2 separate regions of the Homo sapiens genome follow, and region 1 is reported to be linked to region 2. Evidence: microRNA targets listed by miRTarBase, many of them from high-throughput screens and not tested one by one. Region 2 holds a microRNA gene; the other region holds the end of a gene's coding sequence.
What was found. Region 2 holds the annotated microRNA hsa-miR-301a-3p (CAGUGCAAUAGUAUUGUCAAAGC, at 1,463-1,485, opposite strand). A microRNA usually pairs through its seed, bases 2 to 8, with sites in the 3' UTR of a target mRNA and lowers its output. Matches are read on the target gene's strand: a 7mer-m8 pairs with bases 2 to 8, a 7mer-A1 pairs with bases 2 to 7 and ends in A, and an 8mer does both.

Region 1: miRTarBase lists TENT2 as a target of hsa-miR-301a-3p. Seed matches in the 3' UTR shown: 7mer-m8 at 2,960-2,966.

The regions. Positions count from the first base shown.
Region 1 is chr5:79,684,355-79,688,897 of GRCh38, reverse strand. It overlaps TENT2 (terminal nucleotidyltransferase 2), which reads right to left. Exons shown (of 15, transcript NM_001114394.3): 15 at 652-3,699. The coding sequence ends at 3,625. Among named protein-coding and RNA genes, the nearest start is that of CMYA5, 3.2 kb to the left of the region's middle.
Region 2 is chr17:59,149,687-59,153,686 of GRCh38, forward strand. It overlaps MIR301A (microRNA 301a), which reads right to left and starts at 1,535; the gene lies at 1,450-1,535. The region is part of intron 1 of SKA2 (spindle and kinetochore associated complex subunit 2); the gene reads right to left. RefSeq lists a silencer at 414-493.

The sequences.
Region 1 (4,543 bases), not on the chromosome of region 2:
CGATCTCGGTCCAGTGCAACTTCCACCTCCTGGGTTCACGCGATTCTCCTGCCTCAGCCTCCCGAGTAGCTGGGACTACAGGCGCGCACCACCATGCCCAGCTAATTTTTGTATTTTTAGTAGAGACGGGGTTTCACCATATTGGCTAGCCTAGTCTCGAACTCCTGACCTCAGGTGATCTGCCCACCTCAGCCTCCCAAAGTTCTGGAATTACAGGTGTGAGCCCCCACGCCCAGCTGGTCAGGTGTCTTTAGAAGTCAGGAGTTCCCAACATTGTCAAGTCACTCCACTGTGTCTTTATTAACACAATTCCTTCTGCCTCAAAGGTTGGTCCCATTTTTACCAGGATACCCATCATTCAAGATCACCACCTTTCACTGAAATCCCAAAGTTAAACTCAGTACCTCTCTTCCAGGTTCCCACATAATCCTATATTCAAATTATGTTTGTATCTCCTTCCCCAGCAGACTTCGTAAGTTTACTACTCTTCTTTGTCCCATCATCCCCATCTCTTACAAGCCTACACACTAGCAAAGTAGCTAGCACATAGCAGGTACATATAATGGATGCTCCCTGAAGAGAACAGAACCAGAACTGCTATGTACAAATGGAGGTAACTTTACAATAAAGATATTCATTTCATGAGAATGATTTGATGGCTAGAAGAGTTAACATTTATTTTTAATTATAGCAAGTCACAGAGTTGTTAAATATGACTGTAAGCTGGGGATTATTCACCAGTTACACGAGCTGGTATGCATGCATTATGTCTGGAGGTAATGAACTGTAAATCATTGAATTACAGTACAGATACATCAGCTAGTGGGGCATAAGGAGGGAAAACAGCAGAGTCAAGGCTTCCACAGCTCACTAAACCAGGTTTAGCATCAGCAATATTTATTCTCTTAACACCAGCTAGACTTCACCATCAGTAATCCCAAATGACCATGCTCATCCAGTACAAAAGGAATTCAATCACAGCTGTGGCAATCTGTTAAACACTAATCAAAATCACAGGTAGCCATTCTATGTTCCTTCCATCATTTAATTAAAAATTTCTTACAAACATTAATGTCTATGAGATTTATTTGCAAAGATCCTAGTTCAAATCAATCCAAAATTTAGAATTGTAGTACAGATTGCACATTTTAAACACCACTTTAACAACATATGCAAATACAGTCAACCCTCCGTAACCATGTAGGATTTGTGAATTCAACCAGGATGAAAAATATTTGGGAGGGGGTAGGGAGGAGGCAGAATGGTTGCATCTGTACCGAACAGGTATAGACTTTTTGTCTTGTCATTATTATTCCCTAAACAATACAGTATAACAACTATTTACATAGCATTTACATTGTATTACGTATCAGGTAATTTAGAGATGATTTAAAGTATCAAGAGAATGTGTGTAGGATATATGCAAACACTACACCATTTTATATAAGGGACTTGAGTATCTGTGGATTTTGGTATCTGAAGAGGACGGGGTTGACCTGGAATCAATCCCTCAATATACTGAGGGACAACTATATACAGAAATGGACAGATCAACACAAACAGAAAATAATTTAGTACTCACCACACAAATAATTGAGATTAATAACTTAAAAGTCCAGAAAATTCTCTCATATATTAACAGTTCACTTATCTGATATTTGGCCAGTTATGTGTGCATAATTTCAGGCCTCAGTCTACTGATATAGAATTGGGTCTAAGTTTAGTGACTTCTTGATCTGTTTTTCGTGGTAAAACAAAGAAAAGCAGTAGTAAGTGTGGGGCCACTGAAAACTGAGAAAACAGTGACAGTGAAGGAACCCACACCATGGTAAATTCTGGGGTTTTATTAGGAAATGTCATAATACTGTAGAGGCAGAGGGTACATACTTACCCATCCCTGAAAGTTGCACAGTATTACTGAATAGTACTATGACTAATGCTTATAATGATTACCCAGTCATCACTAGAATATTAACTCTACTCAGTACATTCTGATTAAGAGATGCACAGTGTAAATTTTAGGAAAAATTCCCCCCCAAAATATGAAAAGCTCAAATGCATAAAAAGTGTTACACATCAGGAATCTAAAAAATTCACTATGTGTAAACTTTCATTCCTCATAATGCCAGAGACATAAGATATTGATGTCGTTAGCTGGCTAATAAGTAGATTTAGTTCAGTTCTAGATGATAACTACAGCCTCGGTCTCATCTCAAAGCAAAGATTTTCACAGAAAAAAAAGGCACCTCAACAATGTCCATATATAAATTTTATTGCATTTGACATCATACAAAAATTTGAACTTAAGGAAGAAAATGAAAATGTGCACCTTTTACAAGTCAAAGAAAAGCAAAAGTTTTAGCATTTGGTCTGCAAAAAAAAAATACGTTAGAGGTACAAAACTGTACTACAGCAGGTCTAAAAAATGTTGGACATAGTTCTTTTGAAAAAGTTAAAACTGTTTTCAAGGTTACTTTTTATATTTAAATTTACAGGCACTGACCAATTTACAAATATTTACATAAATCAAAAAGACCCTTAATAAACACTGTAGCTTTTTTTTTAGCAGCCACCACTTCTTTCATGTGAAAAAAGAAATACTAAAAAAGAGATTTTTTACAAACATTAAGCTTTTATTTATAATAATTTTATTGTGTCTTATCTAAAACATTTTGTGGTGACTTACTGCCTAAAAATTCCAGTTTAGATTACAATCCTATAATTGTACACAGAAAAATATCTGATACTACAAACAGGATATAATCTTAACTTTGATCTCAGTTTCTGTTGCTTCATGTCACAGAGAAAACAGAGCAGGAAAATGGCAAGTAAAACAGAAGTGCACATTGCACTAAGCTATCGTAAAGCACAGGAAACAATCTTTTCAAAATGTCTACACTGAACTGATTCTTTAAAACGATTCACTAACTGTTGTAAGAGTTAGTGCTCCCATTACTACAGTGCAAAATGTATTGTTGTTTCAATACAAAATTTAAAGCAATCTCAAGAGTACATCAAAAGCATGTGAAGTACTAATGAAATGCTAATACAGACACACCCAAAGCCTCAGTCTATCCCAGTGAGTCAAGCAAAGACTTAAGGCAATTGTTCAGTATTTCATGACTGCAGTGATTTGACTGAAATGAAAGATTTCGTTTTGCTTCAAGTAACTGAACAACTGACTTGAATCTTCACTTTACTAGAACAGACTTTGACAACAAACTATCTAACGTAGGTTATACTTTAAGCATGTATGAATTAGACCCTTTCCAAAATTCTACACATCTCTTCAGGATTAGCATGTGGTACAATTAATTGAAGTTATATCAAAAACTTTTTATTTGTTCAGTTAATTTCCCAAAATATATTTTATCTGATCACCTGAAAACACATGCAATATTACTCATCATCAATGTAAACATTTTTAAAAATACATTTTTAAATCAAAGGGGTTTATTAGGAAATGTCATAATAAAATATGCAATCTTTATATGTCTTTTTAAAAATAAAACATGAAAACAAGAACTATGAAAAAAGCAACTATGATGGAGGTAAACATAATGTATTATGATGAAACTATTGTTCTTTATTTCTTGGAAGAATTTATTAAGAAATAGAGGCCAGTTATCTTTTCAGGACAGCAGCTCTTACAGGTAGTATACTGTTCAAATCTCTCTTGTTTTTCAATCTGTGCCATGACTGGGAGAGAAAGAAAAATCATTCTTAAAACCTAAAATTTATGCAGAACAAAAGACTGAGAGTTTAAAAGAATGTTAATAGTTGGTTCTCTCTAGGTGATAAATTTTGAATAATTTTTTCCTTCAAATTTTTTCTTTTTTTGAGATAAGGTCTCACTCTGCCACCCAAGCTGGAGTGCAGTGGTGCAATCTCGGCTCACTACAACCTCCGCTTTCCAGGCTCAAGAGATCCTCCCACCTCTGCCTCCTGAGTAGCTGGGACTACAGGCGTATGCCATCACGCTCAGCTATTTTTAAATTTTTTTGTAGAGACAAGGTCTCATTGTATTGCCCAGGCTGGCTAAGTTTTTATTTTCCAAGTTTTTAACACAGTGTAAGTATTGTTTCTGTCATCAGAAAAGAAAATGTTATTTAAAAACTCCATATTTTTATGGTTCCAATTCATTAATAAAGAAATGGGCACATAGGTGGTACTGAAAGATACAACTGACAATATTAATATTTATTCACGGATTAATTCAATCTAAAAGTAGCAAGGTAATTAAGACAAAACCTTTGGATTTGAGAAGAGAGGATTATTTCAATTATTTGATTGACTGTCTTACATCTTTACTAGCTTTTTGCATTAAAAACAATAATTATGAGACTGGGTATAGTGTCTCATGCCTATAATTCCAGAATTCTGGGAGGCTGAGGTGGGCAGATCACTTGAGCTCAGGAGCTGAAGGCCAGCCTGGGCAACATGGTGAAACCCTGTCTGTACAAAAAATACAAAAATTGGCTGGGTATGGTGGCACACGCCTATAGTCCCAGCACTCAGGAGGCTGAGGTGGGAGGATCATTGA
Region 2 (4,000 bases):
CTATACAATGAATACTACTCAGCAATAAAAACTGTCCAACTGCTAATATACAACATGGATGAATCTCAAAGCATTATGCTAAGTGCAAGAAGCCAGACACAAAAGACTGTATAATGTATGATTCCATTTATATGAAATTCTAGGAAAAGTTAAACTAGAGATCAGTGGTTGCCAGGGACTTGGGGAAGAAGAGGTTGACCACAAAGAGGCACAAAGGAATGTAGGGGTCTCACTCTGTTGCTCAGCCTGGTCTGGAACTACTGGGCTCGAGTGATCTTCCCACCTCAGCCACCCGAGTAGCTAGGTCTACAGGTGCACCACCATGCCTGGCCACAAAGGAGCTTTTTGTAAAGTAACAGAAATGTTCTATATCCTGGCTGTGGTGGTGGTTACATGACTGTATACATTTGTCAAAACTCGTCAGTTCACTGGGCATGCCACACCCCTGTAGTCCAAGCTACTCAGGAGGCTGAAGTGGGAGGATTGCTTGAAGCCAGGAGTTCTAGGCTGTGCTGCATTATGATTGCCTCTGTGAATAGTCGCTGCCCTCCAGCTGGGCAACACAGCAAGACTTCGGCTTTGCTTAACAAATAGCTTACTTACTTTTATTTTATATAATTGTATCTCAATAAAATTCATATTTTTTAAAAGTGATGAATCCACACTATTGTATCTCATAAGAATAAACTGTAAAACAAACACTCTTAGGTTTTAAATTCAACCATTTCCTAGACAATACACAAAATTAACACCAATTAAGATTTGGAGGACTAGGCACAGTGGCTCACACCTATAATCCCAGCACTCTGGGAGGCCAAGGCAAGAGGACTGTTTGAGCCCAGGAGTTCAAGACCAACCTCGGCAACACAGTGAGACCCTGTCTCCACAAAAAATTTCAAGAAAATATTAGCCAGGCATGGTAGGACACGCCTGTGGTCCCAGCTACTTAGGAGGCTGAGGAGGGAGGATTATCTAAGCCCGGGAGTACAAGGCTGCAGTGAGGTGTAACTGGGCCACTGCACTCCAGCCTGGGCAACAGAGAAAGACTCTGTCTCTGGAGAAAAAAAAATGACTTGGGGCAAGTAACTGCAGGAAAAATATACAGCAGAAATTGTTTCCATCACTACCAATTCATCATAAAACTCAAATAAAACCTAAAGTTTGACAGAACCTATCCAAATATGTAACAGAAAGCAACAAATTATAAAGTATTACTCATTTAGACAAACCATAACAACTTAGATATAAAAAATATTCTCCAGACGTGTTTCATAATGCAGTAAAATATTGTTTTTAATTAGTTAAAAGGTTTTTTTTTTTCAAATTATGACTTTCTAAAAGATATACTGTTAGTAACAACATTATAGTTCTCAGCAACAAAGGTTGTGGTAAATTATTTACTGATACCGAAGAAAGATGTAAGGTAAGAATCAAAATTCTGGCGTGCATCCTGCTTTCAGATGCTTTGACAATACTATTGCACTGCTAGCTGTAAAGTACAGTAGTGCAATAAAGTCAGAGCATTCGTTAGCAGTAATAAGTAGGAAAGGAACACAAAAGCATCTTGCATCGGTTGAAGCTTCAGTGAGAAACGAATTTAAAGTAGGGTTGCCATTTTGGACAGAAAAACATCCAAAACCAAAAAACATTTATATCAATGTTTTTTTAAAAAAGGATAAGACTTAAATATCAAAGTGATGTTGCTTATTGATGACTAATATACAAATTAACATTCGAACAGAAACATGCATAGATGTAGAAAGGAATTTTGTAAATATGCCCTAAGCCTTAATAGTAATTAGAATGGGTATTGTTAATACTTTAGGATTGGTATTAACAAAACCAGTTATAATTACTACTAAGGCAAAGTTGTGAAAAATATTTTTGTTCTCTGCAGAGATGTTGGTTAGCTCCTTCTTCAAGGCAATTTACTGATTAAACGCCATGTAAAACAAGCCCTTTGAATAAAAGTATCAAAGAAAACAAATGAAAAGTAAAATAATAAGTTTCTCAATCTCTACATACTCAATCTATCACTCTGGAATCTAAACCACTAAACAAAGAAAACACAAAAGCACTTACCATCTTACAGCTTTTTATCTTGAGTTTACTAAGGGCTGTCATAACAACAGAAGGGAATCAATGTGCTCTAAACAGAACATTAACCCTATCTAACTGAATACTATCCAAGGGGATTTTAAAATTTCAGTTAACTCCTGAAATCTTAAATAGAGGCAGAAAGCATCTCCATTTCCTTCAAACTTAGAAATGTCAAAGAGAAAATAATGATGGGGGGAGGTGGGACTGAGATTTAAGTAACAAGTTTCCTTAGTTCCAAGCTAATTGACATTTTAACTTTTTTAACGGATAAGAACCCAATCAGAAGTCAGATGTAAACCCAGAAACAGAAATAGTATCATAGTATCACACTGCATTACCTTTTGTGTACAGTCACTAGTAGTACCACGAAAGAACAAAGCTAAACAAATACCACCCCATCATTAAGTGAAGGGGAAAAAGTCAGAGAACAAAGATTGCCCTACAATAAGCTTATTCCCCCATTAGTAATGTTGATTGATGCAAAAATATATTTTCATTATTTTCACCAACCTCCCTTTAAACGGTCCAATTCAACTACTTAGTCGGATTGAGCCTACTAAGGAAATGGGCTCATACAAAGGACAGCTGAAATATAAGTGTCTTGGTGTCAAATCCTGGGCCACATAACTAAAATATTAGAATATTTAACGCTGGTAGCCAAGTTTCAGGTTTTAAAGACAACTGTTTAAAAGATAAGTGTTTAACTTTCTGAATTGGAAGTTATTACAAACAAGAAAAATATTTAAAAAATTTAAGGTATTAACAAAATTAGGATAAACACTTTCTTTTCAAATTAAATATTATGCATTTCCTTTTACCTTGACAAATCCTTTATTTAACTGATGTAAAACCAAAAATCAGAAGATAGCACAGGAATCATTTACTCTTAAAATCTTATAAAATAAACTGGTCCACAAGTATAACATTTTTTTCTAGAAGCACATGGTAAATCTGAAGATGAGATGCACTGTCTTTTATTATCTAGTCAACACAAAGCAGTAATAATTAGAGCCATGATAAAAATTCATTTCTAAACCCTAATAATTATGGAAACAAACTAATAACCTGAAAGGAAAAAAAAAAAAGCTACCACTAATTTACTTGCAAGGATGTAAGAAAGGAAAAAAACCTCATTTCTTTTTTTCCTGTCTTCAAAAAGAATTTAAATACTACCCCATCATTCAAACAATACCTAAAAGTTTAAATGTCTGGCTACCTTATAATTTTCTAAAACCTACTTTTTCAAAATGTTTACTTCATCATTGTTCACTTAAAAGAGAATTTGTTCAATCTAAAGAAGTCCTGTGAGAATACTGACTCTACTGTAAAAGCCAGACGAAGTTTAAAAATTAGAAACAGCCAATTTGAGAAGCAAACAACCTGTTAAAAGCAGAATTAGCATCATTTAGCAGAAATGAATTATGAATTTAAGCAGAAATATCTATATCAGTAGGGAGGAATTCAGAATGGGAGAAGGGCAAGATAGTCTTAACATTTAAGCCTGTTGACAGAATCAAATTACAATGCTTAACATTTTGTTTTTTTTAAATGATAATAAAACTTAAAACTAAAAGTTCATTATTACAGGTTTGAAAATCTGCAGGAAATTCTTCCTTCTTCCCTCCCATTTCTCCCTACACTTCTCCAACCCCACACACACTGCACAAAGAAAATTTAAACACAAAATGCTAAAAGTAATTGAAAGCCTTCAAATTAAATTTGTATATGAGAGGCACTCCAATTCATTAGCACAACAGAAGAAAATAAGATATATCAAGGCCTCACTTTTTCTGGGGTGGGAATGGGGGGTGGGTGAGGTTTCTTCCAGGATCACCACCCATCCTTTCCAAGGAAGAAGTTAGAGACCCAAGATTCAGCTTGAAGAAAGCAGGGCAGGCAC